Linked DNA regions of Homo sapiens. The protein of the gene in region 1 purifies or fractionates together with the protein of each later gene. This does not show direct contact. Each region holds a gene or a part of one and is shown in the gene's direction. Other genes may lie near its edges.

Region 1 (3,500 bases):
AGATGCAACTTACAAATTACCATTTTTCTGAGGGTGGGGCCTTTCCTTTTTTTGCCTGTGAGGATATAGTAGACTTTCAAAAAATGGCTCTGGTCTGACTGAAGGTGGGGTCAGGCCATCAAAGGAGGAAGAAAGGGCCAAGGAGAAGTGATGCTAGAGGCCGGGCATGGTAGCTCACGCCTCAGCACTTTGGGAGGCCGAGGCAGGTGGATCACCTGAGGTCAGGAGTTCGAGACCAGCCTGGCCAACGTGGTGAAACCTCGTCTCTACTAAAAATACAAAAATTAGCCCTGCGTGGTAGCGCACACTTGTAATCCCAGCTACTCAGGAGACTGAGACAGGAGAATCACTTGAACCCAGGAGGCGGAGATGGCAGTGAGCCGAGATCGCGCCATTGCACTCCAGCCTGGGTAACAAGAGCGAAACTCCATCTCAAAAAAAAGAAGTGATGCTAGAAAGAGCTGGACAGAAGGGAACACCAAGACACCTGTCCATCTTCACTTAGCCAAATCCAGGGCCCTGACAAGATGGGTTTTCACCAGGACATTTTATGGGGCTCCTGGCTCCCCACTATTTCTGACAGTAGGATTCCTAGGTCTGTGTCACCTGTGAGACAGAAGGGGAGCCACATTCTGGTGGCAGGGACAGAACCACACGCATGGACACTGATGTGCCATCCTGGTCCCCACAGGTCCCCTGACCAGTACAGCTCCTAGAATAGGTCTTCTCTGAGCTGGAGGGGATAAGCCAGACTGCTTCCTGGGAGAATTGAAAAGGAGCAGGGGGCCCTGAAGACAGAATCAGTCAGGTACACAGTGAGCAGGGGTGATGTGACGGTAGAGAGACATGGGAACAGAGACAGCACACACACCACATAGCTCTGAGATGACGCACAAAATGTTATGACTCCATAGACTGAAGCAGACACAGCGTTTCTTTTCTTTTCTTTTTTTTTTTGAGACGGAGTGTTGCTCTCGTCCAGGCCGGAGTGCAGTGGTGTAATTTCGGCTCACTGCAACCTCCGCCTCCTGGGTTCAAGTGATTCTCCTGCCTCAGCCTCCCAAGTAGCTGGGATTATAGGCGTGCGTCACCACACCCGGCTAATCTTTGTATTTTTAGTAGAGATGGGATTTTACTACATTCACCAGGCTGGTCTTGAACTCCTGACCTCAAGTGATCCACCCGCCTTAGCCTCTCAAAGTGTTGGGATTACAGTTGTGAGCCACTGTGCTGGCCTCAGACACAGCATTTCTAAGGCCATGTTGAGGGTGCCAAAGGAAACCAAGATATTTTACCCCAGAATATACTACTTTGACGTATTTTGAGTCGGCTGTCAGAGGGCCAGCACACAGAAGTGGCCCTGCAAATCTGGCTTTTGAGGGAGATTTGCATCTGCAGAGAATCTGCATTGATGCAACCTGGCTTTCTCTGAGGCCCTCCCTGGTCCAAATCTAGGAAAGATTAACTGAAAGTCTGACATGTTTAAAGGTCTGAAAGACACATACATCACCTGTTTTCTCTGAGGGGTGTTACCTATGAGGTTTCATTCATATAAAAAGACCACTTTTACTGGCCTGGCCTCCGTTTATCCCTCCCATAACTATTTTTGCCAAAGTCCAAGTCCCTTTTTTTTTTGTTGTTGAGACAGGGTCTCTGTCGCCCAGGCTGGAGTGCAGTGGCATGGTCTCAGTTCACTGCAACCTCCACCTCCCAGGGTCAAGTGAGTCTCATGCCTCAGCCTCCTGAGTAGCTGGGACTACAGGCATGTGCCACCATGTCCAGCTAATTTTTGTATTTTTAGTAGAGACAGAGTTTCGTCCTGTTGGCCAGGCTGGTCTCAAACTCCTCACCTCAGGTGATCCACCTGCCTCAGCCTCCCATAGTGCTGGGATTACAGGGGTAAGCCACTGCACCTTGCCCAAGCTCCCATTCTTTCTGTAACCTCAAGATGGTATAAAATCATCAACCATCTGGCTATCTCTTTGACTTCCTATATTTTTTTGACTCCCTTGCATATTAGTTCTTCTACTAATCTGCCTTTTTTCAGTTGGTTTTTCAGCAGACCTGCAGAGGGCACAGGGGAAGTGTTCCTTTGGCCCCTGCAGCACCACAGGACCCCAGGTCCTGTCTGTGGTCGTGGTGGTAACGGGTGCCAGCCTGGACCAGTCCTGCATCGTGGAGCTTCACTCTGGACATTCTAAGGGGCAGACTGTGGCTGGGGCGTGAGGGATAATAAAGGTGGTGTGACCGAAGCCTCCTGTCTATACTGTCTTTTCTCTCCCCTTTCTCTGACAGCTCAACATCCTGGTGGATACAGGCAGCAGTAACTTTGCAGTGGGTGCTGCCCCCCACCCCTTCCTGCATCGCTACTACCAGAGGCAGCTGTGAGTCCTGGGGAGAGCCCGGGGGAAGTACCTTTTCCAAGGATCCAGGGCTAAGAAGGGTCAGGGGAGGGGTACAGAGAGAAAGAGTTGATCCTCAGATTTTCTTCTTGCCAGGGAAGGGGAAGGGCGAAAAAAAGACAGTGACCAGGAGAGACAGGGTGAAGTGGGTGGTGAGAGGAGCTATACCATGGGAAAGGGTGAATTGAGAGGTAGCCAGGAAGTGCTTCAGTGCTGAGACAGGGCAGCCTCCTGTGGGAGGGAAAGGAAGAAGAGCCCATAGCTCACAGAACAATCTTAGGGGGCCCATTTTCTCTGCCTGAATGGGGAGACGAAAACCCCACATCCCCTCGGTGTCTCTCAGTTCTCTAACACCAGCTAAGTCTAAGCTGAACAGGCCTCAGTGACGGCTCCCCTTGCTGTGTTCTTACCCAGGGGCCACTCTAGGTGGCTTTGCATAGTCCAAGGACATGAAGGAAAGGGTCTTTCATAAACCCCTCTGCCTAGACCAGTATCAGAACTGAAAGCTGAAATATCTCCTCCATGCACCACCCAGGGTGCCACCAGTTGGATTCAGCTTACTGGTGAAAGGGGGGTTGAAGAGGACTGGTGAAAGTGGGGGACTGGTGAAAGGGGGGTTGAAGTGGGCTTTAAGATAAGAGGCAGTGAGGGGTAATCTGGAAGCCCCCTTAGCATAAAAGCAGGAAGAAGAAGGGATGAGAGGACACCAATATCTGAGACATCAGTGTGTGCAAACGTGAGTAGAGGCTTAAATCCTATCCTTGGACTTGTAGGCAGCTGCAAAACGCACCTTCCCTGTTTCCTCTAATGTCCCAATCTAAAAGAAGCAGTCAGGGAGGAGGGTGCAGGTAGGATCGATGAAAGGGCATTCACTCCAGTTCCTCGTTCCAGTTCCATCACTGCCCCCACCACACACAGAAGCCCTGGTTAGTGGTGTGATTAAACACAGGTGGGGCTGCCACATGTTGAGCACGTTTCACAGAAGTGGTGTGTAATACCAACCTGCTTTTCTGAGATGCTTGAACAAACCCCTTCTCTAGAACTTGCTGTAGAGGTTCCACATTCACCCTGCCTGGCACTTTCTCTACCACTCGGATG
Region 2 (3,500 bases), on another chromosome or scaffold:
GGTGGCTACTATTTTAAAAAGTGTTGGCAAGGATATGGAGAAATTGGAGCCCTGGTGCACTTTTGGTGAAAATGTAAAATGGTGCAGCTGCTACAGAAAACAGCATAGTAGTTCCTAAAAAAAATTAAAAATAGGATTATCATATCCAGCAATTCCACTTCTGGATTATACATCCAAAAGAGTTGAAAGCAGGTTCTCAAAAAGATATTTGTACAACCATGTACATAGCAACATTATTCATGATAGCCAAAAGGTAGAAGCAACTTGTGTCTATTGACAGATAAATGAGTAAATAAAGTGTGGGGTGTGTGTGGATACAGATACACACACACACTTAAATAATATTTAGCCTTTAAAAGGGAGGAAATTCTGACATATGCTATTAATACAACATGGATGAGCCTTGAGGACATTATGCCAAGTGAAATAAGTCAGACACAAAATGACAAATATTATGTGATTCTACTTATATGAGCTACCTAGAGTAGCCAACACAAAGTAATATGGTAAAAATCATAGAAAACACAAAGTAAAATGGTAGTTTCCAGGAGCTGGGAGGAGGAAGAAGTAGGTAACAGTTGCTTAATTGGTGATTGTATTTTATAAGATGAAAAAGTTTAGAGATGTGGTTGTACAACAATGTGAATATACTTAACACTACTGAACTATACACCTAAATAGTAAATAAATAGTTAAGATAGTACTTTTACCTAGGTCTGGGTTAACTTAAAGCTTTATTGGAAGGGTTTTGTGAAATGATTAAAGAAATTGTATCTTTATCTTTGGTTCTAATCTACGCTTTTGTTTCTTTTCACAGTGCAGCCTTCATATTCATGCTTCCTACAGCATCTCCCAGAAACTGAATGTTCCAATGGCCCCACTCTCAGAGCCGAATGCCGTAGGCATTGTCATTGCTCATGGTAAGGAACCTCCCACTCACCACCTCCAACTGGAACAGTGGCTGAGCACACTGAAACTCAGCCAACAGGCTTTGAACGCTCTGAGAAGAAACAATGTGGATGCTTTTACATTCCTTTGGTAGAATTTCTTACATTATAACAACACTTTGGGTTTTTCATCAACTTTTATCAGAGAGAGCAACACAACTTCTCCGAAGTTTTTGGTGGTTTTCTTTCCTACTAAAAGAGGCTTGATGGGAAATAATCAGAATAAATTCATTCAACATTATTCTCTCTGGAGTAAATGCTCTCTGTTTCATTGCCTATTTGTGCTAATGAGATGGTGGATTATATTGCAGGTAGCGTGGGGGATGCCATCTCAGTGATGGTTCCAGATGTGTACATCTCAGATGATGGGGGTTACTCCTGGACAAAGATGCTGGAAGGACCCCACTATTACACCATCCTGGATTCTGGAGGCATCATTGTGGCCATTGAGCACAGCAGCCGTCCTATCAATGTGATTAAGTATGCATGAACTCATCTCACACACACTGTCTGCATAGAGGGCAACTGGGGGAATGTTCTTCAGTTTATTGGGGGGATGTTACAGACTATAATTCAAATTTTTGCATTTGACAGAACTATAGATAAGATTCTAGAAAGGATTGCTTTTAATTGGCAACTCAGATTAAATGGCATTGTTTTTTCTTCTGACTGCCTTTAGCTAACATATTTGTCACTTCTTAAAAACATTCTTTCTGGGTTGGGCGCAGTGGCTCATGCCTGTAATCCCAGCATTTTGGGAGGCCAAAGCAGGAGGATCGCTTGAGGCCAGGAGTTCAAGACCAGCCTGGGCAACATAGGGAGACCTTGTCCCTTGTCTCTAATATTATTTCAATCAAAAAAAAAACCATATATATATATATGTGTGTGTGTATATATGTATGTGTGTGTGTGTATATATATGTGTATATATATGTATATATATGTGTATATATATGTGTATGTGTGTATATATGTGTGTATATATATGTGTGTGTGTGTGTGTATGTATATATATATATATATATATATATATATATATATATTCTTTCTGTCTACAAAATTATTATGGAAGCGTTCAAGCACTCTAGATTGAAAATGACTTCTTAAGTACAAGTTCTGAGCTGGGTGCAGAGGCACACACCTGTAATCCCAGCACTTTGAGAGGCCAAGGTGGGTGGATTGCTTGAGCCCAAGAGTTCAAGACCAGCCTGGGCAATGTGACAAAACCCTGTCTCCACAAAAAAAAAAAAAGAAAAATTAGCTGGGCGTGGTGGTGCACGCCTTTGGTTCCAGCTACTTGGGAGGCCGAGGTGGGAGGATCACCTGAGGAGGTCAAGGCCACAGTGAGCTGAGATCGTACCACTGCACTCCAGCCTGGGTGACAGAGTGAGATCCCGTCTCAAAAAAAAAAAAAAAAGAAGTATAAGTTCTTATAAAATAATTTGATTGTTATTTATTTATTTATTTATTGAGATGGAGTTTTGCTCTTGTCACCCAGGCTGGAGTGCAATGGTGCAATCTTGGCTCACTGCAACCTCTGCCTCCCAGGTTCAAATGATTCTTGCGTCTCAGTCACCTGAGCAGCTGAGATTACAGGCATGCACCACCACACCCAGCTAATTTTTGTGGTTTTTTGTTTTGCTTTGTTTTTTGTGTTTTGGTAGAGACGGGGTTTTGTTGTGTTGGTCAGGCTGGTCTCGAACTCCTAACCTCAGGTGATTCACCTGCCTCAGCCTCCCAAAATTCTGGGATTACAGGCGTGAGCCACCACAGCCAGCCTTAAATTTATTAATTTAAAAGCCAGTTCTTACCTGGGTCACTCTCCTGTCTTTCCTTTGAAATAATTTCTGTAAAGGTATTTACTTTCATATTCTCTCTGAACAAATCTCTTCCTTATCCTGTTAACTACAGACGTTAAAAGTTAAAATAGTTGGCTGGGTGCGGTGGCTCACGCCTATAATCCCAGCACTTTGGGAGGCCAAGGTGGGAAGATTACCTGAGGTCAGGAGTTCAAGACCAGCCTGCCCAACATGTGAAACTCCATTTCTACTAAAAATACAAAAATTAGCTGGTGTGGTGGCACGTTCCTGTAATCCCAGCTACTCAGGAGGCTGAGGCATGAGAGAGAATCACTTGAACCCAGGAGGCAGAGGTTGCAGTGAGTCGAGATCGCGCCACTGCACTCCAGCCCGGTGACAGAGTGAGACTCCATCTCAGAAAAAAAAAAAAAAAAAAAAAAAGTTAAAATAATTGTCAGCCAATAAGCCACCACCTAAATGTAAGGGGTTTTGTCTGGTTTGGGATCAAAAAGCCAGAGTGGTTTTCTGAATTCCCAGTACACATTGATCCTCTGTCATGATCTTTCTGTAATTGTGGTTTCAGGTTCTCCACAGACGAAGGTCAATGCTGGCAAACCTACACGTTCACCAGGGACCCCATCTATTTCACTGGCCTAGCTTCAGAACCTGGAGCTAGGTCCATGAATATCAGCATTTGGGGCTTCACAGAATCTTTCCTGACCAGCCAGTGGGTCTCCTACACCATTGATTTTAA
Region 3 (3,500 bases), on another chromosome or scaffold:
GAGAGGATATGTTGGCACGTGAATGAGGGCTGCAGACAAGCTGGCTCTCATTAGAATAGTCACAAATAATAGGGCAGAGCAACCACTTACAACTGGAAATTTGGTTTTAACTGATTGAACTGTCTTGGTTAGGTCAAGTTCTTGAATACAAACGACTGACTGCTTCGTAGATCCTTATATGGACATCACAGGACACTTACCCTAGTAACTATTTGGTTTATTCCTTTTCGTGGTGACATATCTAAGTAGTTCAACGTCCTTAGCTTCCTTGTGTTTTTATAAACATTCTTGTGCTTCATGTGCCTTCAGGAAATGTGGTGTGTCTGTTCATTTCCTTTACGCTTCCTTACTGCCACTACATAGACACTGCAGGCATTGGTTGCTTGCCCGCCGATGTACCACCTGATGAAGTTCATTCCTCTGTATTCCAAAGTGCAAAGGCCTTGTACGTCAACACCCATGATAGACAGCTTGTAAGTAAGGTGGTGAAAGATGTGTTAAGTGGTGGGGTTTTTCCCGTCTGATAATTAGAATTGAAATAGTTTAGTAAAGCTCTTGATTTCCTGCAAATGAGTCCTATAATTCTGTCTTTTTTTAAAAATAGACTGTTGGCGATTTTATATGGAAGTTAACCAGAAATGGAATTGGAGCATTGATGATCTGTGTTCTTTAGATTCAGTAGAAAATATTTTAGCGTTTACCAGCATATATCACTTGAAATAGACCAAAAATGCATATAGAAGAGACTTGAGTTCACTAGCTGTTACAGCATTGGTTACCTAAAATCTACTATACTCGTATAGCTGATATTCTACTTAGCCATCAAAGCTCTTTAGTAAAAGTATATATTGTTTAAAACTGCACTATTTAACATTTTTTCCCCATGTTTAGTGTTCGGCTAATGAATGAGTTCACTAATATGCCAGTACCTCCAAAACCCCGACAAGGTTAGTAAAAATGAGTTTTGTTGATGCTATTACATATTGGGAGTTATGGAGACAGATGACTTAAATTTGGTAAATTCAGTCTTGTTGGGAAGATAGTGTCTTTACACCTATGCCATTCTCAACATTCAGCCAGGTGGGAGGTGGGGGAGTTTTGATGATGTTGCTTTTTTCATCATTTATGAGTTCATTGTAGTTAGGAAAACCTGTGTCCTCTTTCCATTGCAGCTCTTGGAGATAAAATCGTGAGGGATATTCGCCCTGGAGCTGCCTTTGAGCCCACATATATTTACAGACTCCTGACAGTTAACAAGTCAAGCCTGTCTGAAAAGGTTTGAGACTTCTCTGTTGTCACTAGTATCAAGTGTTGCCTTTTGTTCCAGTGTTTGTGTGGTAACTGTTGCTTATTGATATTTGCCCTCTGTCTCCAGCGCTATAAGTAGATGTAGGTTTATAAGAGTCCATTGCTTGGATGATATGGTGCACCAAGCACTGCTCTCAGTACTTTACATATATTAACTTAGTTGACTCTGAATAAAGTATGATTATGGTCTCCTTGTTACGGTTAAGAGAAGTGAAGCCACTGTCTGAGGTCAGGTAGCTAATGTACATGGCAGAACCCAGCTTTCAAGTCAGTTCTCTTAACCACTGCACTATATGCCACTGGGGTAGAATGGAGTGCACTGGGCCTGGAATGATGGCAGTATTCAGAAGAGCTTATGTCTTCATCATACTTACAGGCTTTAGTAGCTATTTGATGTACTTGATTCCTTTACCTAATTTTTTTTTAATCACATACTTTGTTACTAAAGGCATGAGACCAAGGGGCCAGGGAGCCCTTATAAAAGGCCCTGGGGCTGTTGAGAGTGACTTGGGCCGCCCTTAGCACCGTTAACTGGAGCATTTCTTTCCTCCCAGATTGAGTTTGTGATGAATCAGTACAAGCAGTTGAAATGATGCTTAGGGAAATGTATTCAGAGAGAAAAATAGTTGAGAAAATGCCATTTAAGTCAAGTTTACTTGAAGCTTCATTGCTTTGAAGAAGAGTGAATGTCGAGGGCATCGTTGCAGGATACCACCAGGGGTAGCATAGGGTCTTAAGCTTTTTAAATGCTTATAATGCAGCTTTTGGTATTGGCTTGGAATTTGCACTTCCCAAGTAATGGGAACATGGTGTTAGGGATGCAGAAATGGAATGAAGTGCGCCCTCTGCCCTCAGTGAGGGAATGAGTTAATGAATAGTCAACAAGAGAAGCACAAAGATACAGAGATGCCTTAGAACCCAGAGGGGCCCACCTAGCACAGGTGGAGGCAAAATAAAGTGGGTGCTCAGGAACCCCTCTTGGATCGTGCACAGAGATAATGCTATGAACAAAAGCATCTTCTAAAGGTTACATTAATAGGGGATGTGTTGGGCTCCCCAAGACCACCCTGAGGTTGGGTGATTCACTGGAAGAACTCAGAAAATGCAGAAGCTGGTATACCCGTGGCTATGGTTGCTGACAGCAAAAGCATGCGGAGCAGAGTCAGGAAGGGAAAGGACAGGTGAGGCAGGGCCTAAAGGAAACTTCCAGACTCCTCTCCCAGTGGGGCCACAAGGCTACGCGTAACTACTCCAGCACCAGACTGTGACCACACGTGAAATGCTGCCAACCAGGGAAGGTCATTACAGACTCCGTGTCCAGAGTTTTTACTGAGGGCTGGTCCCATAGGTACCATCTGCCTGGCTTGAACCAAAAGTCCAAACTCCCAAAACAAAAGCAAAGTGTTCAGCAGAAAGCACATTGCTTGCGCAAACGGTTTAGGCAGAATCCCGTATCAGTTATTGGACCGATGGGAACCTTTCTGAAATCCAAATTCCCAGACACCAGCCAAGGGGCAACCTTGCAAGCAGGCCTTTCCAAGGAGAGCCACCCAGGCCTGCTATGAAAAGTCTTCAGCACACTTTGGCTGTGCCAGTTTTTGCCCTTTTCTGCACACGTGCAGAGCATGCACTCACGTGAACAGCTGCTGTCCACGTCTACTATCTGGAGAGGGCAAGTAAACTTTGCAGTTTACCTAGATGCTTCAAACAGAACAATTTGCAGGGCCTTGGAATAGGCAGTTGTGCTGTGAAGAATGAAATATGAACTGATGATAAGTAACAGAATCAAACACTCGTGATGTGGGATTATTAAACTCTTGGGTGACTCGTCTGTGAATGATTTTGCTGATGTATGTGTAACACAGCTAACGCTCTAAATCAGTGGAGTTTTTCCACATGTAGTTTGAGTTCTTTCCCATGTAGTTGTCCATCATCAAAGACAGACAGAAGCAGACATAGGGCTGCTTAGCTCATTGCTCGAGTGGTGACCCTTGCAGTTGAACAGTGAACTGGCCCTAGACATCTAGTTCTTCGTCTTCTATTTTGTTTACCCAAGACAGAAACTTTTTTTTAAATAACTTTTTTGTGATAAAGGTAATGTGGCCAGGTGTGGTGGCTCATGCCTGTAATCCCAGCACTTTGGGAAGCCAAGGCAGGCAGGTCACCTGAGGTCAGGAGTTTGAGACCAGCCT

The links. Proteins that work in one complex are often made in the same cells at the same time.
Region 2: the proteins of BACE1 (region 1) and SORT1 purify together in Homo sapiens (affinity purification with western blotting; one study listed by BioGRID). This does not show direct contact.
Region 3: the proteins of BACE1 (region 1) and USP10 purify together in Homo sapiens (affinity purification with western blotting; one study listed by BioGRID). This does not show direct contact.

Annotation. Positions count from the first base shown.
Region 1 is NC_000011.10:117,295,757-117,299,256, reverse strand, and holds part of BACE1 (beta-secretase 1 isoform A preproprotein), read left to right. Parts: intron 1-2,295; coding exon 2,296-2,384; intron 2,385-3,500. UniProt on the Homo sapiens protein: Responsible for the proteolytic processing of the amyloid precursor protein (APP).
Region 2 is NC_000001.11:109,324,919-109,328,418, reverse strand, and holds part of SORT1 (sortilin isoform 1 preproprotein), read left to right. Parts: intron 1-817; coding exon 818-920; intron 921-1,258; coding exon 1,259-1,427; intron 1,428-3,329; coding exon 3,330-3,500.
Region 3 is NC_000016.10:84,759,000-84,762,499, forward strand, and holds part of USP10 (ubiquitin carboxyl-terminal hydrolase 10), read left to right. Parts: intron 1-363; coding exon 364-473; intron 474-891; coding exon 892-947; intron 948-1,172; coding exon 1,173-1,276; intron 1,277-3,500. UniProt on the Homo sapiens protein: Hydrolase that can remove conjugated ubiquitin from target proteins such as p53/TP53, RPS2/us5, RPS3/us3, RPS10/eS10, BECN1, SNX3 and CFTR.